2 linked regions of the Homo sapiens genome follow. The protein of the gene in region 1 purifies or fractionates together with the protein of each later gene. This does not show direct contact. Each region holds a gene or a part of one and is shown in the gene's direction. Other genes may lie near its edges.

Region 1 (7,697 bases):
GCTTTGCTTTTCAGTATTTGGGATTTTCTTTCTGCTTTTGTTTGTTTGTTTGTTTTGGTTATAAGTATCTTAGTTTCTATCTCAGCTCATCCTATCCTTTTGCCAGAAAGCCATTCCTTACTCCTAGCACTGTCCATATTTCCCTGGCAAATGCAACACTTACTTTCATAGGATCAAGGATTTGAGGAATGGAAGAACCTTAGCGGTCCCTTCCGAAAAAGATTTAATTTAGGAATCCTCTCTCCAACTTCCTTGTCAGAGGATGGTCCTAGCTCTATTAAACATTCCCGGAATATCACATTGCTGGAGAGCTTTCATGGATCAAGAGGTTTCCCTTGTGTCCAGACTAGCTGTATGATCCTAAACAAATCACAGCATCTCTTGAGTCTGCGTTTCTATAAAGCAAGAAGAGGTGATGATTTCCAAGGTCATACAAGTCACAGAATTCTTCCTAATTATTTTAATGGCAGTAAGCAGAATAAAATGCTTGCTTGTAACATCTTTGGCTCTGAAGGATATTGTCCAAAGGGTGAGGTTGGTGTTTAAGGGGCAGGGACAGTAATTTTTAACACCATCCAATAGGGACTTTTCAATGCTACCGAGCAGCGGATCTACATACTGTTCCCTAAAAGGACACCTCCTGGCTACTTGTTCCTTAACTTCCCGCTGCCCAGTCTGCCACTGAAAGCCCCACATGGCACTTAGGGAGCTCTCACCATGCATCCCTGATTATCGTTATTACTATTACTATTCTGATTTGTTCACAGAAAACCATTACTACCAGTCAGTGGTTGATCTTCTATCCTTATCTACTTATCTGCAATATTTTTCACTGTTGCCCACTCCCATTCTTTAAAAATTATCTTCTTTCTTAGCCCCAGGACAATCAATCTTTGATTCTCCTTTGCAATGTTTTGATCACTTTTTTATGCCCATCCCTTAAAAAGGAGTCATTTCTTTGGACCTCCAATCTTCACCAGGGAGAATGCTAAACCCCAGCTCTCCTTCTTTCCCTGCCACTGTTTGACCTTACACAGGTCGTATTCTCTCTGGGCCTCATTTGTCCCTGAGAAAAGAGAAGGAGCTGGAGTGATGATGTGGAACATCTCTTCAAGCTGTACACTGCTATGCTAGTCATCTTAATCCCATTCCTGTATTCCTTCAGTATGTGGTAGAGTTTCAGAAAGCAAGTATAGGTCTGTGATGATGCTAATACCACCAAGAAATCATTCATTCCAGTATGGGGAGAAACCTTAAACACCATCTGGTCTGAAACCTTTGTTTTACAGATGAGGGAACCTAGGTTCAGAGAGGGTACTTGATTGCCTCAAAGCAGAGACAGGATAATAAGGAGGTCTCCTGGGCTCTCACTTGTTGCAAAATAAATTTGAGTGTTTTCTGGATCTGGCTAAAGTGCACAATGATATCAGAGTAAAACGTCATACGGAAGGTATAAATTGATCTAGAACACATTAAAGCCTTCCCCTCCCCCTTTAAAAAAATCAACTTTAAGAATTTTGGAGAGAGATTTGCTATCAGTGGTGCTTTATACAAAATAGCATAATCTGATAACATAAGACATTTTAGATTTATGTTTTTAAATAGCCAAATAAAACAAAATATCAAGTCACAGATTACATATATTTACATTAATTCAAATGTCCAAAGCACAGTACAGTAGGGTCTATTTAATAGTTCACATAATTTAAGATTTACATATACACAAGCACATGAACCAATATTAGTTTGCTAGAACAGGGATTTAAGAAGTTACTCAGACATTTTGGTATTGACACTTACATATTTATGGCAACAAATTATGATGACTTTAAATTTTCAATGAGATCTTTTGTACAAGAATACAGAATGGGAAGAATGTACAAAATGAAAAGACAGGCAAACAAATGTACTTTCCTTGCACTATTTCTATAACACCATATAGGATGTGGCATTATCCAGTACATTTTATCAGTGTAGTCTATTCATTCTGGTCTAAAACGGTAATTTTGGCTGAATAACCCCCAAATCTAACTTTGCTTTAGGCTTTATAATTAATTGATGCTTGATTCTTCTTTCTACATCTTTTAAAAATGAAATTGGACACTAGTGTTTTTCTTTAAAATAACTCTGGTACTAGTAAGTTAGCAAAGTCTATTTTTAAAGGACACTAATACATAAAGTTTATTTTTTCTTTCAATATCCTAAATAAAGGGACAATGGGAGTCATATCACCTTTGGGCCTACTCTGAAATTACCAATAGTGCTAAAAGCTAAGATATTGTGATCTAGAACTTAAACTTTGGAAAACAACCCCATCTTTCTATGGCACATTGAGGAACTGAAGTACTTTACCTCATTTCCTACCAATCATTTTAAGAGAATTTGGTTGTATTTCAAAGAACAAAACAACACAATTTCTGTCCTGCTGTTTATTTTGCAGACCACACACAAAGTTAAATATGAACAGATTAAATTATGACATCATACAAATATAGGCACAAATTAAGTGGACGCCACAAAAGGTGTGTCAGAAAACACTGAATTGACTGAATCTGAGTCAGATTTCCCCCTCGTGGACTTTAGGATGCCCTCAGCTATCACTGCCTCGCTGGGAAAGAGCCTGACTTTCCCGTTCTGCCCTGCTGCAGTATCCTTCAGGGGTTCCAAAAACACCACTCTTTTACCTGCACCTGCCTTCCGTTCATCAGCGGAGGCATCACTAGCGGGGCCAGGACTGAGAATCGATGAATGGGCATTGCTTTGGTGTAGCATATTTTTCTGTCTCTTGGTTTTACACTTGCAGGGGCATGGAGTCAGATAGAGGTACAAAAGTACCAAAACGATACTGGCCACGCAAGCAGCAAGAGTGGTAAAAGCTGTGTTAAATGCCTCATGAGCATGGGATCTGCTTACAGTGAAATTGCTCACATTTATTGTGACGTCCACAGTTTCATTTAACAGGCGTTGCTTATTCATTGCGATACAAGAATACACTCCAGCATCCTCAAAACGAGGGCTTTCTATAACCAGACTTCCATTGTGAAACACGTAAAAGTTTTCCATCTCTTTATCCGGCTCTAGCAGTCTGTTATCTGGACCCACCCAGATGAAATCCGTATTTGCATTACCTGTCTTGCTGTCACAGTGGACCATCAGTCTTTCCCCGACCTGAGCCTCATGAATAAAGCCAAGCGCACGAAAGGAACCATTGATGATGCTGTCAGAGCAATTCATAAAGCTATCCTGGAGCAGAAGTACCTGACGCGAGTGCCTGGAGTCAGACCACAGGCGACAGGTGTAATCGTTCTTAAAATCCATCACTGAGCTAAAGTGCCTACGATACCAAAAGACCAGCAAGGAGTACAGGGAACAGTCACAGACAAATGGGTTTCCATGAAGGTAGATGCCTCTCAGCTGTTTTCCTGGCACTAAATTTATGTGGTGCATTGGCATGGAAGGAATTCGGTTATAAGAAACATCTAAAAACATCAGTTCTGCCAGCTTGAACCTTCCAACATACAAATCCATCGGAAACTGTGTGAGAAAATTTCCACTTAAGTAGAGTTTCTGCAACTGGGAGAGCCCTCCAAACGCTGAAGGATCGAGATAGGATATGTGATTGTTGTAAAGCAGAAGCACTTCCAGAACCTTCAACTCTTGGAATACAGCATTTTTCACCGTCTTCAGCTTATTGGACGATAAGTCAAGACACTTCAAATTTGGAGTTGTGGAAAAACTGCCCGTGGAAATGCTGGTGATGTTGTTATGACGAAGAATTAGGGTGTTCAGCTTTGCAAACGATACTGGAATCCACTCAGAATCCAGAAGCCCAATTCTGTTATAACTCAGGTCCAGTCTCTTAATCAGTCTGAAAAGGTTCCCAGGCACCTTGGACAGGTTTTTGTTGGTGCAGCTGACGATGTCAGTGGCACAGATGCAAGCGGTGGGGCACACCCCAGAGGCACCAGGGCCCACAGTCACTGTGATCATCAGCAAACACAGCAGCTCCCTGCAGCCCGGTCTGACGACGGCTCCAAGCAGGGTGGGCAGAGTGTGTACACGTAACGACATTATGGTCGCCTCTGAGTCTCTTCCCGGTGTCTTTTCCACCGGCTCAGCCTCCCACCAGTGAACCTGGCAAACAATTAATAATTCAGAGGGAGTAAAAAGCAGAAACTGACTACCACTAGTTAACCCATAAGAGCCATACCTTACTTTCTTTCCAATAACTTTTGAAATGGGTTTTATTTCACAATAGGGAGCTCTGTGTTGCCTCTTCACTGTTAAATGTATTTTTTCCTCTTTCCTGGGTTAGTCCTGCTTATAAAAATGTACAGTCACATTCTCTCCATACAACCCACCGTCTCACCCACCATCAGAAACTCAATTTTTTCCTAAGGTGCATCCTGCGTTGTTGTTGTTGTTGTTGTTGTTTTAAACTCCCTCCAACAGACACAACTATACGCAAACGTACGCTACAAACAATTAAACGGAAATACTTAGCAACCACCCATCCAGGAAAAAACTCACGGTGCTGGGGAGCCTCGTGGGCTCCGGGGAGGCTGCCTACGCAGTGCCTTCCGAAGGTCTGCGCGTCCGTCTGTCCGTGTCTGTCACTCTTGCACCTTCCGACTTCCTTTCCCTCCGGCTCCCGGCGGGCGGCACCCTCTAGCCGGCTCTCAACTTTGAGGAGTTTCAAGCAGCCGCGGCGGCAGCAGCAGCCCTGGACGCAGCAGCCAAGCTCTTCGCTGGCTCCCGGGGGCTCTCCCGGGTTCCTCTCATTGCAGGCTGAAGGTACCGCCTCGGCGCTCTGGCCGCCGTGTGCCCGCGCGCGGGGCGCCCCGCTCCCAGAGCCGGGGCCGCGGGAGGGGGCGCAGGCAGCCGGGCGGCAGCGGGCGGCCCCGCCTCTCCGCACTCGGGAGGCTGCAGGACCCGGGGTTCCCGCGCGCCCGGGGCCGGGAGACGGGCTGGGGCGCCGGTCCCACCCCTGCGCGTCCTGCCTCCTGCGGGCAGCAGCTCGGAGCCTGCGGGAGGGAGCAGGCTGGGCGCGTGGTGGGGGGCGCGCGATGCGGAGGGGGCGGCGGCGCAGCCAATCCGAGAGGCGGCCGGCGCCCCCTCATACCGCCCCGCGGCCTCGCCGCCTCCTCCCGCTTTCCTCCTCCAGCTCCCACCCGGACCTCTAGAACGGCCGCGCAGAGCGGGGAGGGGGCAGGGGTCCACACCAGAGGCCCAGACTCTGGTCCTTGAGTCAAGATGCCCAACCCACTCGCCTACCAATTACGTCCCTTCGTCCAGCTCCAAGCCGGGCGGTAATGGGGTCCAGGAAGGCTAAAGGGGACACGCCCAGCCACCGAGGGAGGGGTCTCACCCTTGGAGACCCACTTCGCGGCGGCCGCACAGGTCACGTCTCTCTCCCCACCCAGGCCAAGGAATCCCCGGACCTCTTAGAGCTTTGCTTTGGGGCAAGGGCCAAGGAGGCTTTGCCTGCGCCAAGTGCAGTTGACTGTCTGGGTTTACAAAATAAACCCAGAAGCAGCCTGACGTCTCCGCTCGTTTCTAGGGAGGAGGTCGCGGGGAGGGAAGTCGGGAACGTTTCCTCTCCACAGGGATATCTGCTGGGAGGAAGTAACCGGGAAATCGCCACGGGGACACCCCTCACCTCCCTGGGAAAGTTCTATCCCTTTCCTGACTCAGGAGGCGGCAACAGGGATGGTGTCCAATTCAAGAAGGAGGAGGGCAGGAAAGAAGGCTTGGAGCCGACCTTCCGGCTGGAATGCAAAGATAAGAGTATTAACCCAAATAATAATAATAATCCCAGAGCAGACCTTTTTTTCTTTTTTCTCTCTTCTCCTTCCCCTCTTCTCTCTCCCTCTCTCTCTCCCTCTCTCTCCTTTCTCTTTCGTTCTCTCTCTCTCATTTCCTCTGTCTCTGTCCCCGCCACCTCCCCGTCTTTTGCAAGCGTGCTCGTGGCGCGTGCGGGACAGGGAAGTAAGGGGCGTGTGCGCGGAGGCTCTTCATCCCTTCCGGAGATGCCGCGGCCGACCAGCGCGCTTTGGTTCAGCAAGCACAGAAGGTGCAAGCCGAACAAGGCCATTCAGAAATGAGGTGGAGACTATGAGGCTGATGAGCTCTACGATTAAAAATCCATTTTTGTTTAATTCCAAGATAAGTTTTAACGATGGGATTTGAGTGAGTCAGATCGCCCATTTGGCCATTATATCCGGATTAAAAGAAATAAATTACTGCCTTGACAAAAGATGCCAACCACAGTGGAATGAAAAGCAACCAAATTGAGGAAACAGTTGGGGCAGGATAGATAACTTGTAATATTACTTAAAAATAAAAATGATGAGGACAACCAACTCTTCCTCCCCTCCCCCGCGCACCTTTTCACTTGAGCAATCTTGAATTTAGTGAAAGTTGTTTCCTACATGGTCCGTGAGTCATTGCTGTGGTCAGGCAGATTTGTTAGACCAACACCTAATTTAAATAGAATTGTTTGTGGAATAAAGCCGGGCTAGCACTAATAAATCTAGGCATTTTCAGATGAGGACAACTTGATTCAGATTAATTTATTTCATGAAAGTTGAATTTTATCATAAGAACACAGCCTAAAATGCTTCATGCAAGCATTTCTTACTGTGTACTTAAAGGGGAGAGGCAGAAGTTGAGATTTTCTAGTATTAGGCCACACTTCCTGGGATTCTCAAAAGCTTGGTCTCCAGGACTTCAATTTTATAGAGTTAGAATAGTTAATACAGAGGAATAGAATTAAAATCGCTCAGAGGAATATTTTTTAAATGACTAATAAATGACCAGGTTTTTGCAGGATTTTACTAATTAACATCGTATTTTAAGGAAACCATGAAGGCAGAAGAAAGACCTGTATTTAATGCAAAAATAGTCTAAAAAGAATAAGTGATTCAAAAAAATGGAAACAGGAAGGTTATATTATTATAACTACAGGCATATTGTAGAAACATTATGCAGAGATTACACAGCAAAAGTAAACTAAATGCACTCAAAATCCATAGACAAGGCTATTTATCCATTTGAAGACCTGATTTGGGGGATTTCACATGTTTGTGAAAGGGAAGAACGTTGTAAAAGGATTGAGTTTACTAGCTGGGAGGAAAGAAAGATAAGAGTTGATCTTAAGGTATAAGACGTGACCTTATTTTGTGGAGGATAACATTTTTATCTTTCTAGCATCCCTTCTCCTTCTAACAGATTCCCTCTTTCCACTAGAAGGTAAATTCCAAGAGGATAGCAGTTTTATCTGTTTTGTGTATTGCTGTATTCTCAGCTCTCAGAACCCTGCTTAACACATTCAATAAATTTTTGATAAATGAACTGATGAACAGGGAACCTATTCAAAGTGGTTAAGATAACGGTTTACCCCAACTGAATCTGCTGGTTGCTGTCCTGCCTTTTATGCTTTGAAAGCTTGTCTTAAAAAAAAGGAGAAGAAAGAGAAAGAGGAGTCCTGTAAATGTTATTTGAGTCCTGGATCTGGTAGTACCTGAAGGCCACTGCATACTTTTACTTCCTTTTTAATTATATTTTCCACCCCACCCCCTTTTTTAGCTTAAATTATTTTGAGTTGCATGTCACTTGTGACGGACAGAGTACTAACACATGTAATGATGGTGATAATAAATATGTACTGAGCCTTTATTATATGCCAGACACTGAGC
Region 2 (7,436 bases), on another chromosome or scaffold:
AGAACTTCCTGAGGCTGTGTCAGGTGCCATGGTCTTTAACCTTAGCAAAATAAACCTCTAAATTAATTGAGACTTGTCTCAGATACTTTTTGTTTTTTCAAGATGGAGTCTCACTCTGTTGCCCAGGCTGGAGCACAGTTCTGTGATCTCCGCTTACTGCAACCTCCGCCTCCAGGGTTCAAGTGATTCTCCTGCCTCAGCTTCCAGAGTAGCTGAGATTACAGGCGTCCAACACCATACTCAGCTAATTGTTTGTATTTTTAGTAGAGATGGGGTTTCACCATGTTGGTCAGGTTGGTCTCAAACTCCTGACCTCAAATGATCCACCTGCCTCAGCCTCCCAAAGGGCTGGGATTATAGGTGTGGGCCACCACACCTGGCCTCAGATACTTTTTGGTTTACATGCCTCTAACTCACTCTCCTTCCTTTCATAGCCAATTTCTTGTAACAGTTGTCTCTTCTTTTGGGCTCCATTTCCTAATCTCCCATTCCAATTTTAATTCCATACTACATCATACTACTAAATTCCATATCACATCACACATAATCTTGCTAAGATCACAGAAGACCTTCACGTTGCTAAATTCAGTGAGTATTTTTTAGTCCTCACTCCCTCCCAGAAGCATTCTCCTCTTTTGGTCTCCTTTATTTTATTCTTAGTTTTCCTCGTCTCTGCCTGCTTAGCTTTCTTTGCAACTGTTCTTATTTTTCCTAGTCATTAAATATTAGCAATCTTTGGGGCTCTGGTCTTTTGTCTTCTTACTCTACAGTCTCCTTAACTGATCCCCTTCAGTTGCTTCAATTACTACTATGAGCCAGTAACTCCCAAATCTCCTGCTTACGCCCATACACAGAACCGTGTTCTTGTTATCAACCCAATCATTCAAACTCAACGTGTTCAAAATAAAACTCATGCTCTTGACTTCTTACTTCACTCCCCAACCATCTTTTTCACTGATAGTTTCACTCCTACTACAGTAAATGGTACCATCATTTAGAGTTGTTCAAGGACTCCAAAACTGCTCTTCAACCCTCCTATTTCTCTCTGCCTCTACATCACCACCCAAATCCAGGCCCTATCAGATCACACCAGGATTACCGTAACATTCTCCTAACAGGTCTCCCAAATCTACTCTTACTCCCTCCAATCCAAGTTCTTTTTTATTTTTTTGAGACGGAGTCTTGCTCTGTCACCCAAGCTGGAGTGCAGTGATGCAATCCTGAGTCACTGCAACCTCTGCTCCCGGGTTCAAACGATTCTCCTGCTTCAGTCTCCCAAATAGCTGGAATTACAGGTGCCCGCCACCAGGCCAGAGAAATTTTTGTATTTTTAGTAGAGATGGGGTTTCACTATGTTGGCCAGGCTGGTCTTGAACTCCCAACCTCAAGTGATCTGCCCGTGTGGGCCTCCCAAAGTGTTGGGATTACCGGCATGAGCCACTGCGCTTGGCCCCTCCAATCCATGTTCTAAAAGGTAGCCAGAGACAGTCTTTTAAAACTCAAAAACTTCTTTAAAACTCATTTTCCTTTTTACAAACCTTTAATGATTTCTTTTTGTCCTATGACAGTATTGGAAAAATTCTAACAGGCCAGTGTACCCCGATAAGAGGTTGTAGTGTTTCCTCAAGTTACGGTTTTGGGAGGCTGTCAGAAACCATGATAGACTGCTGGTTTGAATCATGTTTTACCAGGACTTGTTAAACTCCTGTGCTCCAAGTCTTTTGGCAGCTGATCCCGCATGCTCAAGAGCACCCCTGACAACGTGGACACTTGGAGGGTTCTCACCATCCAAGAAGATGTCACATTACTTAGCCTTTAAAACCTGAGTGAGGCCGGGCACTGTGGCTCACTCTGTAATCCCAGCACTTTGGGACGCCGAATTTGGCGGATAACTTGAGGTCAGGAATTTGAGACCAGCCTGGCCAGCATGGTGAAACCCCGTCTCTACTAAAAATACAAAAATTAGCCCGGCGTGGTGGTGCACGTCTGTAATCCCAGCTACTCAGGAGGCTGAGGCAGGAGAATCACTTGAGCCCAGGAGGCAGAGGTTGCAGTGAGCTGAGATTGTGCCATTGCACTCCAGCCTGGCCGACAAGAGATAAACTCCGTTCCAGAAAAAAAATCCCCAAAACAAAAAACCCAATTGAGTCAATTCTAATAGTTTTGTGTATTTTTAGTCTCCAACCAGCACTATTTTATGGAGAGAGAATAGGAAACAAAGAATCTAGCTAGGGGAAGCGTGCAAAAACCTTTGGTTAAGACTAAGTTGTAAATGGAATAACCCAAATGTCCATCAACTGATGAACGGATAAACAAAATGTATATCCATACAACAGAGTATCATTCAACCATAAAAAGGAATGACGTTCTGCTAGGTGCAAATACATGCATGAACTTTGAAAACATTATGCTAAGTGCAAAAAGTCAGACACAACAAACATATTGTATGATTCTAGTTACAGGAAATGCCCAGAATACGCAAATACCTGGAGACAGAGAGTAGATTAGTGTTTCTCTAAGGCTAGGAGTAGTGGGTAATAGGTAGCGTCTGCTAACGGGTGCAAGTTTTATTAGATAGTGTGATGGTTGTGGCCGGGAGCCGTGGCTCACGCCTGTAATCCCAGCACTCTGGGAGGCCAAGGAGGGTGGATCACGAGGTCAGGAGATCGAGACCACCCTGGCTAACACGGTGAAACCCCGTCTCTACTAAAAATACAAAAAATTAGCCGGGCGTGGGGGCGGTCACCTGTAGTCCCAGCTACTCGGGAGGCTGAGGCAGGAGAATGGCGTGAACCTGGGAGGCGGAGGTTGCAATGAGCCGAGATTGGGCCACTGCACTCCAGCCTGGGCGACAGAGCGAGACTCCGCCTCAAAAAAAAAAAAAAAAAAAAAGATAGTGTGATGGTTGCACAACCTTGTGAACATACTAAAACCCACTGAATTGTGCACTTTAAAAGGGTGAATTTTATAGTATGTGAAGTACATCTCTAAAAAGAAAAAACAGAACAGGCTGTGTGGCCCAACTGATTTATCACTACTCTTAGAAGGAAGCCCAATTTAAAATTGAACAGAATAAGGCCTGCAAGGCTCCCGTGACTTGGTCCCTGCCTACCTCTCTTAAACAAATAAATAAAATGTATACTATGTAGAAACAATAACAAAAAAAAGGCAGAGCAAGGTATGGGGCAGTTCTGGTGCCAGAGGGTTTGTTATTTAAATAAAGTGGTCGGAAATCATGCGTCGCTGATAAGGTGACAACAGTCAGAAGCCTGAAAAAGTTAAGGGGTAAGCAATATAAATATTTAAGTGCTTCCTCATAACTTTGCTCACTCCACTCCAGCTAAATTTGCCACAATTTCTGTTTCCTCCATCTGAAATGCTCTCCCTCCTTATTCTTCCATTCTTCCTCTGGTTCACTTCTACTCCTGTAGTTCTTGGTAACAAACGGAACATTTGTGGAGTGAGGGGGGGGGATCCATTTCCTTCAAGGCGCAGTTTGGAGGTCACTTCCTCAGGGAAGCCTTCCCTTCTCTCTTTCCCTTTAAAGCTCCCAGTATAGCATCTTCCAGTACTTACTTGAACCGTAATGGGTCATTTTTAACGTCTGATCCCCTTCAGACAAGCTCTGGCAGGCCCTTGACGTATCCCCAGCGACTAAGCACCACGTCTGGCACTTAATAGGGGGGTGGAATGGGAGTCCTGGATTCAAAGTTTGGCTCCAACACAAGACAACTGGACGCAAGAGGTGAGCCCACTGTGATTTCTGGGGAACCCAGGGAAGGGCTGCTTGATTGACTGACCGACCAGCAGTGAGATCTACAGGCTCTCTCAGAGCTGCGCCAGCGCCGAGTCCCCGGCCCCACATACTTAGAACCCCGTAATGGGGCTCAAAATCACTGAACCTCGGGCTCCTAATCCCCAACGGCGCATTTCCAACCCCCAGGCCTGACCTGCAGGTTCCGGGTGATAAGGTGCAGTTTCTCTTCAGGGCTGGGAGCGTCCCCCATGGCTCCGCTACCCCTGCTTCCCCCGCTCAGCCCGGCACCAGAGCCCCTTCCTGGGTCACCGTCGCCGCCGCGTGCCGGGAACTGTCACGCGAGTCCAGCCAGGTTGCATCAGCTGGGCTCGGCGCTCCGCTTACTCGGCCTGGACCCCTCCGGCAGCGGCCGGAAAAAGTGAGGAGCAGCAGAGAGTCGAGCAGGTCGATGAGACGGGAAAAGGTGGAGCCAGTGGGCACGGTGGGCGGTGCGGAGGGCGGGGCTGAGGCGCCTGAGCGGGGCACAACCCTCCTAGAGGCGGGACGGTTTCCTGCCAATCACTGCTGGTTTGCCCTCCCCCTGGTGTTGGCCCGGCTGACTCGGGGTAGGGGAGGTCGGGGAGGGGGCGATAAAATGGCGCAGGGGGCGGAGTGAGGCGCAGTCGTTCGCCCAGGCTTTGGCCCGGCTTCCGGAGGTGAAGAGCGGGAGGGACGAGGGGGTCGGCGTTACCCGGCTTGGAGGGGGATGGGGGCGCCTGTTGCTTCTCCAGGGGGTTGCGCACGCCGTCCGCCCCTTGGAGGGATTGGGAGGCCCACGCCCTGCTGCGAGAAGGGCGCGTTCTAGCTCCTGAGGTGATGGCGAGGGAATGTCCCTGCCCCTCCACCTCCAAGTCGGCGGGCGACAGATGCCCCTCACCCCGCTGAGGAAAAGGGAAGCTCCCTGGTCGTCTTGAGAGTCGGGGAGCGCCGTCTGCAGTCCCCTGCCCAGTGGGGGTGGGGGCCGCCTCTGTCCCGGCCGGCTCGGCGGGAGGCTGTTGCTGGCGGGAAGATAGCCGCGGGCTTTTCTGCCGCGTCTCGCGGGTGGGGGCAGGAAGAGGACGACCCATTCCCTGGGGAGATCTGAGGACGGTGGTCCCCGGGAGAGGAGCGCACAGCACAGGCCTGCTGAGGGGCGGGTTTGCCCCTACTGGGGGAGGGGCGGGGAGAAAACTCTCGCTTCTCCCGCTTTCCGCCGGGAGGCGGGAATTCGCGGTGTCCCCGGGGGAGGGAGACGCAAAGGCCCTTCCTGGAAGGCGACACCGTCCCGGGCCGTTGCATTTGTGAGAGAGAGCCAAGGCAGTATCCTCCAAAGGTTGGGCCTGGGCCACCCTTTCTCCGGCTCCTCAAGGGCTGGAGGCGGCGTCACCAGTTACTTCCAGGGCAAGAGGGAAAGCAGTTATTACCTCAGTGGGCCCTGGAAAGGTCCTAGAAGTGGTTGAATTGCCCACGGCCTGCCCTAACCTGATCTCCGGTGTTTTGTGTATTTATTAGGGACTCCAAGCTCTACCAGACCTGCCTGAAGTGTTTTAAAGCACATTTTCTTTTTGAAAAGAAACCTGTTGCTGCAGCTTAGCGCATCTGTTCTCTGTGTCCATGTGGGAGGAGAATCCTGGCACCCTCATCTAGTGAAATGTTACCTAAAGCAAAGATTTGCAGCCCTGGGTTGTTTTTTCCGTCCTGCAGTGTTTTTAGTTACTTCGAAGGAATTTGCAAAACTGTTACAGATAATTTCAGTTCTTTTTGATTTTTTGTAAATGTTGTGCCTATTTTTTATGGAGTGATAAAGCCTGCTGAGTGCGTTTCGTGCTGTGTGCTTCACATGTATTGCATTTGGGAAAGGTTGGAAATCAAAGGCCAGGGGGAAGTCTTGTCCACTGGAAATAATCTCTGCTCTTGGCTGTACCTGTCAGACCCTGCTTGGTAATGGTCTTGACTTTAGAGCTTGAAAGAGGATGTGGGCTTGCATCTGGTGTTGCAGTTTTAGTGGCCTCAATAAAGTAAGGCTTTGTGCTCGAAGGCAGTAGGTTTTCTGAGGTGAGATAAAAATAGAAAGGGAACCAGTTTCTGAGGTTGCAACCAGGAGGTTCGAGAACAGAGAGGGGGTGGTAAACTGAAGTGTGAAGAAGGGGGTGGACAGGTGAGAGAGATGTGGAAGGACAGAATGGGGTCACAGAAAGGATGGGGTGTAGAGGAACTAAGAAATAGAATTAGAAGATCGGAAAAATATTCTTCCCTTAAAAATGAAGGGATATGGCCAGACATGGTGGCTCACGCCTGTAATCCCAGCACTTGGGGAGGCCGAGGCCGGAGGATTGCTTGAGGCCAGGAGTTCAAGACTAGACTGGCCAACATAGCAAAACCCCATCTCTACTGTAAATACAAAAATTAGCCTAGCATGGTGGACGCCTGTAATCCCAGCTACTGGGAGGCTGTGGCATGAGAATCGCTTGAAACTGGGAGGCAGAGGTTGCAGTGAGCCCAGATCACGCCACTGCATTTCAGCCTGGGTGATTGAGTGAGACCCTGTCTCAAAAATAAAAATAAAATAAAAAAATAAAGGGGTCCCCATATTTTAAGTGGAGGTTACCAGACAAGTGCTAAGAAAGGTGGTAGATGGTAGACAGAGAAGTAAGCAAGCCTTCTTTTGACAGAGAAGTAATAAGTAAGGCTGTCTTTGGAATTTCACTGAAGAACTTCAGTTTTATATGAGGATTTCCCCCCTTGCACATTCATTAAATACCATGTTTTTTTAGTATAGAACTTTTAGGTTTAGAGTACTTTCATAAACATCCTATTTTTTCTCATGATAATCTGTGTTTGAAGTTAACAGTATTTACCCCCTTTTTAGATGCATGTTCTCATCTGTATTGAAGTTCAGAGACTTGAAGTGAATTGCTGAGGTCCAGTACCTCTATAAAGGATAGTTCAGTGAACATTAATTTGCATAATTTGCCGGATATTTCAGATGTCTACCTAGTCTGGTCTTCAGTGACAATATGGTTGAGTGCTGGATTAAACTAGATAAGAGTAGAGTATATTAGATAATTTCAAGCAGGGTCTAGGGGAAATTCCCTACCAGTTTAGCACTCTTTTTTCCTACCGTTCCTATGCTTTTTTTTTTTTTTTTTTTTGAGATGGAGTCTCGCTCTGTCACCCAGGCTGGAGTGCAGTGGTGCGATCTCAGTTCACTGCAACCTCCGCTTCCTGGGTTCCAGCGATTCTCCTGCTTCAGCCTCCCAAGTAGCTGGGATTACAGGCATGCACCACACACCCGGCTAATCTTTGTATTTTTAGTAGAGACAGGGTTTCACCATGTTGGCCAGGCTGGTCTTGAACTCCTGACCTCAGGTGATCCACCCACCTCAGCCTCCCAAAGTGCTGGGATTACAGGAATCAGCCTCTGCGCCTGGCCCTATGCTTCTCTTAAGACTCCAGGGATCGGGGCAATGATGGTGGTGGGGTGAAATAATAACTATGGCCACCAGTTATTTGTCTCTTATGCCATGCCTCTAGTGTGCCACATTTATGTTCACGATCTCATTTAATTCTTGCCACAACCCTATCAGGTAGGTACTGTGATATATGAGGACATTTGATACTTCACAGAGTATAATCATTGTATCTTTCCCATTGACTTCAT

The links. The genes of interacting proteins can lie anywhere in the genome.
Region 2: the proteins of PCED1B (region 1) and S100PBP purify together in Homo sapiens (affinity purification with mass spectrometry; 3 studies listed by BioGRID and IntAct, with this or other methods). This does not show direct contact.

What each region holds. Positions count from the first base shown.
Region 1 is NC_000012.12:47,074,932-47,082,628, forward strand, and holds the start of PCED1B (PC-esterase domain-containing protein 1B), read left to right. Parts: upstream 1-4,689; 5' UTR 4,690-4,794; exon of another isoform or gene 4,795-5,028; intron 5,029-7,697. Other genes in the region: AMIGO2 (amphoterin-induced protein 2 precursor), read right to left, coding at 2,503-4,071.
Region 2 is NC_000001.11:32,813,238-32,820,673, forward strand, and holds the start of S100PBP (S100P-binding protein), read left to right. Parts: upstream 1-4,415; 5' UTR 4,416-4,452; exon of another isoform or gene 4,453-4,609; intron 4,610-4,943; exon of another isoform or gene 4,944-5,108; intron 5,109-5,287; exon of another isoform or gene 5,288-7,362; intron 7,363-7,436. Other genes in the region: YARS1 (tyrosine--tRNA ligase, cytoplasmic), read right to left, coding at 3,951-4,007.